Regions from separate parts of the Homo sapiens genome. Here all the other regions are linked to region 4. Evidence: fine-mapped expression QTL. A gene starts in region 4. Each other region holds a variant in brackets. All regions are shown on one strand. Distances are between the middles of the regions.

What was found. PIP is the estimated chance that this variant, and not a neighbour inherited with it, causes the effect.
Region 1: its variant is the best candidate, but not a certain one, in a credible set for the expression of SPATA7 in liver (GTEx, PIP 0.59).
Region 2: its variant is the best candidate, but not a certain one, in a credible set for the expression of SPATA7 in whole blood (TOPMed, PIP 0.85).
Region 3: its variant is the best candidate, but not a certain one, in a credible set for the expression of SPATA7 in putamen (GTEx, PIP 0.51).

The regions. Positions count from the first base shown.
Region 1 is chr14:88,362,460-88,365,149 of GRCh38, forward strand. No RefSeq gene overlaps it. Among named protein-coding and RNA genes, the nearest start is that of SPATA7, 22 kb to the right of the region's middle. RefSeq lists an enhancer at 2,162-2,690 and a silencer at 2,306-2,600. The variant T/A (reference allele first, on the strand shown) is at 1,172.
Region 2 is chr14:88,581,095-88,583,784 of GRCh38, forward strand. All of the region lies in intron 9 of ZC3H14 (zinc finger CCCH-type containing 14), which reads left to right. Among named protein-coding and RNA genes, the nearest start is that of ZC3H14, 19 kb to the left of the region's middle. The variant T/C (reference allele first, on the strand shown) is at 1,031.
Region 3 is chr14:88,299,766-88,302,455 of GRCh38, forward strand. The region is part of intron 1 of KCNK10 (potassium two pore domain channel subfamily K member 10); the gene reads right to left. Among named protein-coding and RNA genes, the nearest start is that of KCNK10, 22 kb to the right of the region's middle. The variant G/A (reference allele first, on the strand shown) is at 1,078.
Region 4 is chr14:88,384,191-88,386,880 of GRCh38, forward strand. It overlaps SPATA7 (spermatogenesis associated 7), which reads left to right and starts at 1,467. Exons shown (of 12, transcript NM_018418.5): 1 at 1,467-1,647. The coding sequence starts at 1,629. RefSeq lists enhancers at 1,150-1,229, 1,260-1,329, 1,340-1,659.

The DNA.
Region 1 (2,690 bases), 22 kb before region 4:
ATCTTTTCCATTTTATACATCCCCAATTGCATATGAAAATCATTTTTCTATTATTTTAGGTAGCACATGCATAAGAGAGTGAACACGCCTAAGGACAAGTCACTGAAATAATTGTCTTCCTGCCTATTTCCTGATTTAGTGGAATGAGCACGAAATCAAGAGTCATAAAGACCAATTGTGTGGGCTAATTACTTATCTTTTCTGGGCTCCATAGCTTTTTCTGCAAAATTAGAACTTTTGCTTAGCAATCACCAGCATCCTCCTAGCCCCTAAATTTTCTGACAAACAAGGGAAAATATTTGCTTACCTCCAGCCTTGTGTACAAACTGAATTAAAGAGTGTCGGAACATCACTTCTTCTACCTTGTTCAGATATTGTACAGAAACATTCACTCTGCATCTTATAAATAACACAGAGGAAGTCTTTCTGTACCCAGATCACCACCAAACTTTCTATCTTGACTGTGCTTTCACTGTGGGAAATATTAATAGCTCCTGTGTTCATTGTGACCTCAATGTTATCATAATCTCAGGTTGCCTATAGGTATAAACTTCAGTGAATACTTAACGTTACAGAATGATAGGCTGTTTTCATAACACATTTTCACACTGTTGGATAATTTAGATTTTGTTTAAAAACATAATGAACACTAAGAAGTTGTTTGCAGACAAGGAAATGGAAGACTTCAAAGAGGATAAGAGAAATCTCACATTTAATTCAATTAAGTCAGAGAATGAACATGTCTAAGGATGTCAAGAACCACCCTCCCACCTCCATTTTCTAAGATTACTTACTCAAATATTCTAAAGAAATAATTAATTTAGTCTAAATTAAATCTAAGTTTCTAATAGTGTTCTTCAAATACTTCAAACTACTAGGTAGAACCAAGTGATATTGTCTAATTGACAATTTTTTATTTATAAAACAGCAATTTCATGTCATTCAATCTAATAATTTAGAGTGTTTCTGTATATTGCAGGCAGACATCTAACAAGACAAAGAACTAAAGTGTGACTGGAGTGGAGACTGAAATCCCTTAGAAAGACTAGGCAAAGTATCAATAAAGAATGGTTTTCATTGGTAGCTTACATAAATCATGGCTTTTAAAAATTGATTTGTGCGTGGCAGTTTGTGAATAGTAGATGCACTTATAAGAGCTTTTCAAAAATTC[T/A]TTAACTGTTAAAACTTCAGATTCTATTTTTTTAAGTGGAAAAGATATTATCAGGATAGATGAACAGATTGGTTAAGCTTTTTGTTTTGCTTTGTTTTTCATGGTGAAGCCACTTGTAAACAGAGAATGCATTCGGTGGAGATTATCAAAGCTTTAGGGTGAGCATCCTCCCAAATGTACTGTTGTGGAGATTGATTGACAGTGGAAGAATAGATGGAATGCTCTTCTTAAGCTATGGGGACAGGTTACCTAGTAACCACTGAATGATTAAGTTCTGTTCACAGAGACTTGTTCTGTTAATTGGACGAAAAGATTTAAAGAGCGCAGCTGGGGAGAAATGGAAAGATGGAGGACCGTGGCCATTATTAGTGGACCTGACCAGCAGCCTTAGCCAAATTGTCACAATATGAGTGAATCTTCTGTTAGTACAAAGAAGTCAGTGAAGCTACCTACAGAGTCACAATTTTGTGCACTTTTTAACTGTAGGAAAAATGAAAATAAGGTGTGGAATTACACATATTAAAAAGTGCAGTGAAAACTGTGCGGTGTTATAGTTCTGAGAATGATCATTTTCTGTGGACAAGATTATATTTGTGTTCAGATATCAGAGTTCTATTATTTAAGAGAACTCAAAATAGGCACTTGGGGTCAGTATATCCTATCACAACTCTCTTCGGTCTAATACCATCAGGCACATACTGCTTTATAGAGAATTGTGGTCACCTCTGTTCTCTCCTGCTTTTAACAATAAAATTAAGAAAAGTCAAGGTATAGATTGGTAATAATGACATTTTTCATTCATTAAGGATTAAGAAAAAGCAAGGTATAGTTTGGTAATAATGACATTTTTTATTCATTAAGGATTTTTAGATGATAGAGTACTTTTTGCCTATGCTCAAAAAAGAACTCAGTATTTATATTTTAGAAAGGAAAAAGTATCTAAGACAAGTCTCAATCAATTTAGAGATTTATTTTGCCAAGGTTAAGGGTCATGACCTATGACACAGCCTCAGGAGGTCCTAAGGACATGTGCCCAAGGTGGCTGGGTTATAGCTTGATTTTATGCATTTTAGGGAGACAGAAGTTACAGGTAAAGACATAAATCAATACATGTAAGGTATATATTGGTGTAGCCAGGAAAGGTGGGACATCTTGAAGGTGGGGGTTAGGCTTCTAAGTCATAGGTGGATTTAAAATTTTCCTGATTGGCAATTGGTTGAAAGGGGTAAGCTCTGCCTGAAGAGTTGAAATCAGCTTGAGTGAAGGTAACTGGGGAGGGGTGGGTTGTGGAAACCAAGGTTTTTGTCATGTAGATGAAGCCTCCAAGTAGGAGAATTCAGAGACAATAGATGTGAATGTTTCCTATGGAACTTTAAAGGTCGGTCAGACTATTCAGAAAGACCTAGTAAAGGAAGGAGATTCTCTACAGAATGCAAATTTCCCTCACAAGAGACAGCTTTGCAGGACCATCTCAAAATATATCAAATAAATATATTTTGGGGTAAAATACTTTCGCTTT
Region 2 (2,690 bases), 200 kb after region 4:
CCTGTTGTCCTGAATTTACATTGGAAATGTTTCGGAACTCACAGTGTATTTTATATATAAATACATTTTTTTCTAGTTCTGTCTACTAGAAGGCATAGAAACATTCATCAACCCTTAGCATCATCTGTAGTTCCCAGATTGTGGTCTTGGAATACTTCCTATTTAAAAAACTAGGCTTCTTGGGCTGGGTGCAGTTGCTCACGCCTGTAATCCCAGCACTTTGGGAAGCCGAGGTGGGCAGATCACCTGAGGTCAGGAGTTCAAAAGCAGCCTGGCCAGTGTGGTGAAACCCCATCTCTACTAAAAATACAAAAAAATTAGCTGGGTGTTGTGGTGTGCGCCTGTAGTCCTAGCTACTCGGGAGGCTGAGCCAGGAGAATCGCTTGGATCCGGGAGGCGGAGGTTGCAGTGAGCCAAGATTGTGCCACCGTACTCCAGCCTGGGCAACAGAGTGAGATTCCGTCTCAAGAAAAAATAAAAATAAAAAAACAAAGAACTAGGCTTCTTGAGAAATGTCTTTTTCCAGGTCTGGGGCAGGAAATGTTAACATGATCCTGGAATGGCTCAACATCCCAGATAGCAAAGAAGCTGTCAATGAATGGTAGACCACGTCCAAAGGATGCAGGCGCCAACTTAGAGGTTTCCATTGGCCAAAAATGGAATTATTTGAGATTCAGTAGGTGTAAATATCGCGGTGAATTAAAGCCCATTTAAATCCACAATTTCATAATGACATTTTAAAAAAATAAGCTCTAACTAGTCACCTTCTGGAAGGTAGTAGATAATCATTCATTGTCTTGAAAACTGGGTAAATAAAATAATTGAACATTTATGCTGTCTTTTCTGTGAGAACGATACCACTGGGTAACCCCATAGGACAGGAGTTGGCATCTGTTGGAACCAAACCGTGCCTATTCATGTATGTATTGTCCGTGGCTACTTTCATACTACAGCCTTAGTTGAATAGTTGCAACAGACCATATAGCTTGCATAGCCTAAAATAGCCTAAAAGATTTGCCAACCTCTGATA[T/C]AGTAGATGAGAGAAACATTTTCTTTTAAAATGATTTCAGCTGATAAGAGAACAAGATGGTAGGATTAGAGTTATGCTTTTAAGAGTGAAAACCAGTTGTTTTGTGCCTCTTGATACAAAAGAACAGAACTTTTGTCTTGCCAAAAATGTAAACCTAAGTCATCAAGCTCCCAGTCCAGCAGTCAGTTTGCAAGAAGTTGCAGAGGCCAGAGGAGTATGTTGGTTGAGCTTCACCATGAGTGTGCAGCCGGAAAAATAGTGTTTGGGACACTGTGGGTTGAATAGCCTGAGAAATTGAGATTAAAAGGCAAATCAAAGGAAAATAAAAGGAGCAGGATTAAATTGTAGTGGCTAGGGATACCCAGTGTGTGTGAAATTATAAAGAACCTCTAGGCGTTAATATAAAAAGCACATAGTGGTTGCTTTTGAAGAGGACCGATAAAGATGGAGCACACAGAGAGGCTTCTGGGGTGGCAGATGACGTTCTCTCTTTTGACTTGGATGGTAGTCAGAAGGGTGTTTTGCCTTACAAAAATTCATTAAGCTATATGTTTGTGTGGTTTTCTATACTGTGTTTTAAAAGGGGATAATTGAAATGGTGTCAGGTACCTTTGCTGATGAGGAGTTTGGTATTACTAGATATATTCACAAGTGTGAAGTGATACTGCAAGCAACTGTTATCTGTTAATGTGGTTACTCACTGTTGTACGGTATAATCTGGGGCAGGTTTTTAAAATATAAACATGCACTCGTATTGGCATAAGTTGTTAATTTTTTTTCTTCTTTTGTTTGAGCAGATAGCATTCTCTCATTTCTCTGGTGTCTTTATTTTTACTAGCGCACCCACCTCATAATATGTGTACTTTTTGCTTTTTGTCTTGCCATCAGTCTGTCACTAGAAGTTTATTTTGCCGATCTTTTCAAAGACTTAACAACATTATTCTGGCTTTATTGATTTTTTTTTTTTTTTGGTGTTTTTGTTTTCTATTTCATTGACTTGTGCTTTTTTTTTATTTTTTTTTTTTAAGAGGCGAGGTCTCACTGTCACCTAGGCTAGAGTACAGTGGCACAATTGTAGCTCACTGCAACCTCAAATGCCTGGGCTCAAATGATCCTCCCACCTCAGGGACCATAGGCACACGCCACCACGCCCAGCTAATGTTTAAGTTTTTTTGTAAAGATGGAGTCTCACTATGTTGCCCAGGCTGGTCTGGAACTCCTGAGCTCAAGCAGCCCTCTTGCCTCAGCCTCCCAAAGTGCTAGGTTTACAGGTGTGAGCCACTGCACCTGGCCCGACTTCTCTTTTAATTTATCCTTCCATATTTTAAAAATTATTTACCTCAGGCTGTCTTCTTCTCAAATGTAAGCATTTGAGAAGAATACATATGACAGGTTTTAATTCATCATGTTTTCATTATCAGAGTGTCTTTAATTTCCATTATAATTTTCATCATTGAAAGTGTGTTTTCTATACAGTATTTGGAAGTGGTATGTGTTTTTGTCTTTTAATCCTTTTTATTATAGACACCTGACTTAATTGCATTGTGGTTAGATAATGTAATTTTTACAATGCATAGTTTTTGAAAATTGTTAACACTTGCTTAGTGCATAATCAAGTTTATGCATCTTCCACATGCATTTTGGAAGAAAGTGGACTAAT
Region 3 (2,690 bases), 84 kb before region 4:
AGTAAACAATGATAAGTTTATTGCATAGGGCAAAGCTAAATTTAAGTTTTTAAAAGTGAAATCAACTTACAGAAAATATTAAGTATATAGTGACACAGCTGATATCTAAATATGGCCACCAAAAAATTAAAAAGTGAAGATGGCATAGGAAAGGCCGACGTTTAAGAAACCCTTCCCTAACTGGGCCTGAATCTGGTTTTGCTCTCAAATGCACCCACTGCAATATTTATCCCTCACAAATATTCCTTCATGTAACATCAGTACTCAGAAACCCCAAATAGCTCCCGGCCAGCCTAATCTCACTTCCTCTACTGACAGTTCTCATTTCCCTAATTCTCTTTGCCGATTCCCCTCTGATTCCTCCCCACTGGGTCTCAGCCCTTTCTATCCCTTGAGCAAAACTTGCAAATATGCACCATCTTACCAGTGCTTAAAACCATCTTCCTCCCCTCTCTTCTCCACCAATCCACATACATTCCCTTCCCTGAGTAACGAAAGTTCAAAACCACCTACTTCTTCTACTTCTCATTCTTATCCATCTTGTGCCACACGTCCTTCATCAATCACATTAACTGTCTTTACTTGTGACTTTGCATTTATTCACATGTATGTTTCATCACTCCAATTACACTCTGAACTCAGCAAAGGCAAAGACTATGTCCTTGATGTTGTGTGAGGTCTCAGTCATCCTACAAGAGTAGGCTAAGCATATACCACAAGCACTAAACATATGTCCCATAATATGAGAAACCAAAGGCCAACATGCCAGAAAACATTTAACACTGGGTTCTCTCCTAGCTTGTCAAACATGAAACTTGGTTTAGGAAGCACCTGCTCACTACGTAATTCAAGTGGGGTTCTTACTGCACTCATCACAAAGACTGAGTTTTAATAGCTTTCCTGGACAATGAACCTGGCTCATCATAAGAATGCATCTTTAGGGTATTTTAATAAGAAAATTGTTCAATCTGGATTCATTCCTAATGCTTCTTTTAAAGAACTCACCTATGCCTTCAAATGAATTGAATGAATGGAGTCCAGAATTCCAAAATTCAGAAGGTTTTGGACTGAAAATTA[G/A]TTTTATTTATCATATGTTTTAAATAAATAAGAAATCATTTATCCTATATTAGGCTTCCTTTTCTCAATCTGTTAAGGGGTTCTCTGTCTTCATCTGAGCAAATATAGACCAGTGGTTACAAATACGGACTTTGGATTCAGTCAGATCTAAGTTAGACTCTCAACTCTACCATTCACCAGCTCCAGGACCTTGTGGAAATTTATTTACTCACATAGCAAACATTAATCGAAAGCTACCATGTGCCAGGCACTTTGACTGACCTCCCTAAGTCTCAGTGTTCTGAGAATGAGAATAACATTCCTTGACAGTAGAGGCATTGTCAGGACTTTTAATCTGTCAGAATTAAATATGATAATGTACGCAAAATGCCTGGCACTCTTCCAGGTTCATAGTAACAATAAATGTTAGTTATCACTGTCATTATCACCATCATCATCATCATCATTATCATTATCTTGAGTCGTTGTAGAGCCTTTAGTGCTGCTAATTAAGTTCCCCTTCTTAAAACTCTCTCCTCCCTTGACTTCACAGAGATATCATTGTACTGTTTTTAGTTTATTAATTTTTAAAATTTTGAAATTTGGTTTATAAATTTTTTAGTTTTAGTTTATTAAACTAACAAATAGAACTTTTTTTCAAAGAGTTAGAGGCATGATGCAGAGACTCCTAACAGTATGCTACAACAGAGGGTGCCCAGCAGGAGTGGGCGGTTAGAGAAAGATTCTTGGAGGACATGACATTTGGACTGAGATTTCAGAGGCGAGGAGAAGCCAGTCCTATGAAAATTGGGCAGAAGATAATCCTAGGAGAAAAAAAAAAAAGAGGTCCCGTAAAGGCCCTCAGATCAGGAGGAGCTTGTTTTATTCAAGGAAAGCAGAAAGAAGTGCAGCATAGGTTAGAGGAAGACGGCTCAAGACCAGCCTTGGAAAGGAGGTCAGCACAGCCAGCACTCAGGGTGCTGCAGGCCAGCACCAGAAAGCAGATTTTATGCCGAGTGGAAAGAGGAACCGATAGAGAATTTTAAGCTGCGGGTCAAGAGAAATCAGATTCATATTTTTAAAAGATCATTGTGGCTGTTCCACGGAGGATCAATTATTGGGAGCAAGGGTAGAAGAAAGGAGGCCGATAAAAAGGCTGTCAGCTCTCCACACAGGAAGATGCGTGGAATGAGGGTGGCAGGAGCAGAAATGGAGAGAAACAAACAGATTCTGGATGTGTTCTAGATATCGTATCAGGCAGGACTTGCTGGTGAGTGGAGAACAAAATGGCAGGGGTGGGAAACAGAGGACTCATGCAACATGCCCGTACTTTAAGCAACTATACAGATAGATGGCGGTGCCCATCAATGAGATGGGAAACTCATTCAATGAGATGACAAACTCTTGAGAGAAGCAAGTTTAGGATATACTCGGCATATAGATGATACAGAGGGACTGCTGAGATCACTCAGGAGAACCTACAGATCCTGACAAGAAGGACCTCAGGTCTAACTATTTGGGCATTCCACCAATTAGAGGTAGAGCAATGAGAAAGGAGTCAACAGGAAACAGGAGTGGCCAGAAAAGTTAAAAGAAAACCCAGAGCGGCCAGGCGCGGTGGCTTATGCCTGTAA
Region 4 (2,690 bases):
ATAAAAAAATTAGAGCTTAGTCCTCAACTCTACAGAAGAAAATGACATTTACCCAGGAATGGGCATTGCAATAGGAATATGCGTGCCATGGCAAACTGTTTGCATATTCAAGGAATTAAAGGAAAAAAAAGTTTTTTTAAAAAATAAAAAAAGGAGAGGATTACATAATTGTTTTGAGGTAATTAGCCTTGGCTCCAAGCATCAATAACAAGGGTGATGTCAGTTCAAGGTTGGACAGACAATTGCTGGACAGATGTCCTCATAGAAGTATCTTTTTGGGTAAGGTGGAGGTCTTTGTGCAAGGTTGTGGTTTTCGCAGTATTTTGTGATAGTTTTATTATCAGGCATTCATGGATGAGAACTCTCCTTCATGGCCTTCTCCAGTTCCACTTGTCAGGTTTTCTAACACATGTGACTCTATTTTTGATTCTGACAACTTTCACAATCTACATTAGAAAAGAGAAAACTGGGGCTCAGAAAGTTTTAGAAACTAATTCAAGATCAAGCTGGTAAGTAGCAAAAAATTTAGAATTAAGTTCTACATATCTGGTTCCAAAACCAGGACTCTTTTCATTACAGCAGTGGTTCTCAACAGAGTTGCGATTTTGCCCCCCAGGGAATATTTCACAATGTCTGGAGACATTTATGACTGTCAGGATTGGAGGTGGAGTGGGTGGGGTCTGCTTCTGAGAAGCTACTTGCTTCTAGTAAACGGAGGACAGGGATGCTACAAAACAGTTCATAGGGACAGCACCCCCACAACAGAGAATTATACAACCAGCCCAAAATGTCAATGGACATTTGGGCTGAGAAGTCTTACATGACAGAATGCTTCCTACCCTGATCTGACGTTATTTCCAAGGATTCAAAGGTAACTGCTTCAAAATTAAACAAATTATAGAAAGCCATCAATAAATCAACCCCTTATTCATGTTGCAGCTCTCTTCCATTATAAATAAAAATGGATTGAAACTTACGATAAAAGGGAGGCAGGGACAGGAGCGGGGAAGCTTGGCGAGCAGAAAGGAAATTCAAACTTATTATTAAGGTTAAGAATTAAGATGTAAATATGTAGATGTTTTTCACCCCTAGGATTTTCACTAATCCAAAAGTTCACGGACTGCTTTGAAATTTAATTATTTGGAACTGGTTAAATGTTACCCTGACCTCAGCTAACATTTGTGTTTCACTTTTCTCCGGGACCCAGGGGACGTGGATGCCAGATGAGTCCACCTCCTCTCCCTGCTCTTCCCGCAGGGACAGAGCCTGCCAGGTGCTGGTGACTCGGATCCTGACAGGAGGTCGCTCTGCGGAAGACTGGCAGGATCCCAGAGCAACAGACTGGGGCTCGATGCCCCTTCCCCGCCAGGTCTCTCCGTCCGCAACTGTCCTCCTAGTACCGGGTATCCCGCAGGCGGGGCTGCGGAACGCACGTCCCCTGCGCCGTGACGTCACAATAGCGACTCACTGGACCCAGCCCTTAGCAACGGCCTGGCAACGGTTTCCCTGCTGCTGCAGCCCCCGTCGGCTCCTCTTTTCCAGTCCTCCACTGCCGGGGCTGGGCCCGGCCGCGGGAAGGACCGAAGGGGATACAGCGTGTCCCTGCGGCGGCTGCAAGAGGACTAAGCATGGATGGCAGCCGGAGAGGTAAAGGGCAGCTGTCAGGGGCTACCGCCGCCTCGCCCCTCGCTCCAGGCGGCGCTCCCAGCCTCGGGTCCGGGCAGCTGAGTGCAAGGCCGCCCCTTGGGGCGCTTCCTACCCCTGGCTGAGTCGCCAGTGTTGCCTGGAGCTGCCCAGGCCTGCGCAAAGGAAGAGGGAGAGCCTGCTTGCCAGCCTCGCAGGTCCGCTTCTTTGCCCTGAATTTGTCGCCCTGACACCAGGGGCCCCTGTCTCCTGAACTCAGGGTCGTGCAGCCTTTAAAACCTCAGTAGCTCCCAGGCAGAGGAACCAGGTTTGGTCTTTGGAGTCAGACCTCCCCGGGCCCCAAATCAAACCCCTCTGCTCTCCATGGAGACGACCCTCAGTTTTCTTATCTCTTGAACGTGAGGGTCAAATACCCAGGCCATGGAGTTCTTGAGGATTAAATGCAGATAATATAGAGAAGATCCTGGCGCATTTGAAGTGGTCAGTAAATACGAAATCTCCCAGTAACGAACTACCTCCCCCAAAGCTACTGAGTAACCCAGGGTTTCTGTAACTTTCTGTGAATAGGAATCCCCTCAGGGTCATGTTAAAATGCAGATTATGATTCAGTAGGTCCCTTGGGGGTGGCTGAGATTTTGCATTTATAATAAATTCCAAGTAATGCGGTGTTGCTGGTCAGCGGACTGCAGTTTTAGCAGCAATCCGTACTCACCATATACACCTGTTCTCTACTGATTTCTTGAGTCAGGTGGACATCATGTGGTGGGGTTGGGGGTGGGGAAATACAATCTTAAATATCTACAAATCGGCCCAAACCAAATAATTTGCATTTTCACACTTTCTGAGCCAGTATCATTCTTTCCTCGAGTCAAATGAGGCAATCTTTATAGACTCCCCGCCCCTCCCAATTCAGTGTTTTTATCTATTTAAAAGACTGCCTTTAAACCAAGCTGCTAGATGATTCCTTGATGTCTTTCTTTGAATGAGTCTGCCTTTATTATATAGTCATTGATCAAAATAAGTGCTACTCCGAATGTAGGAGATAA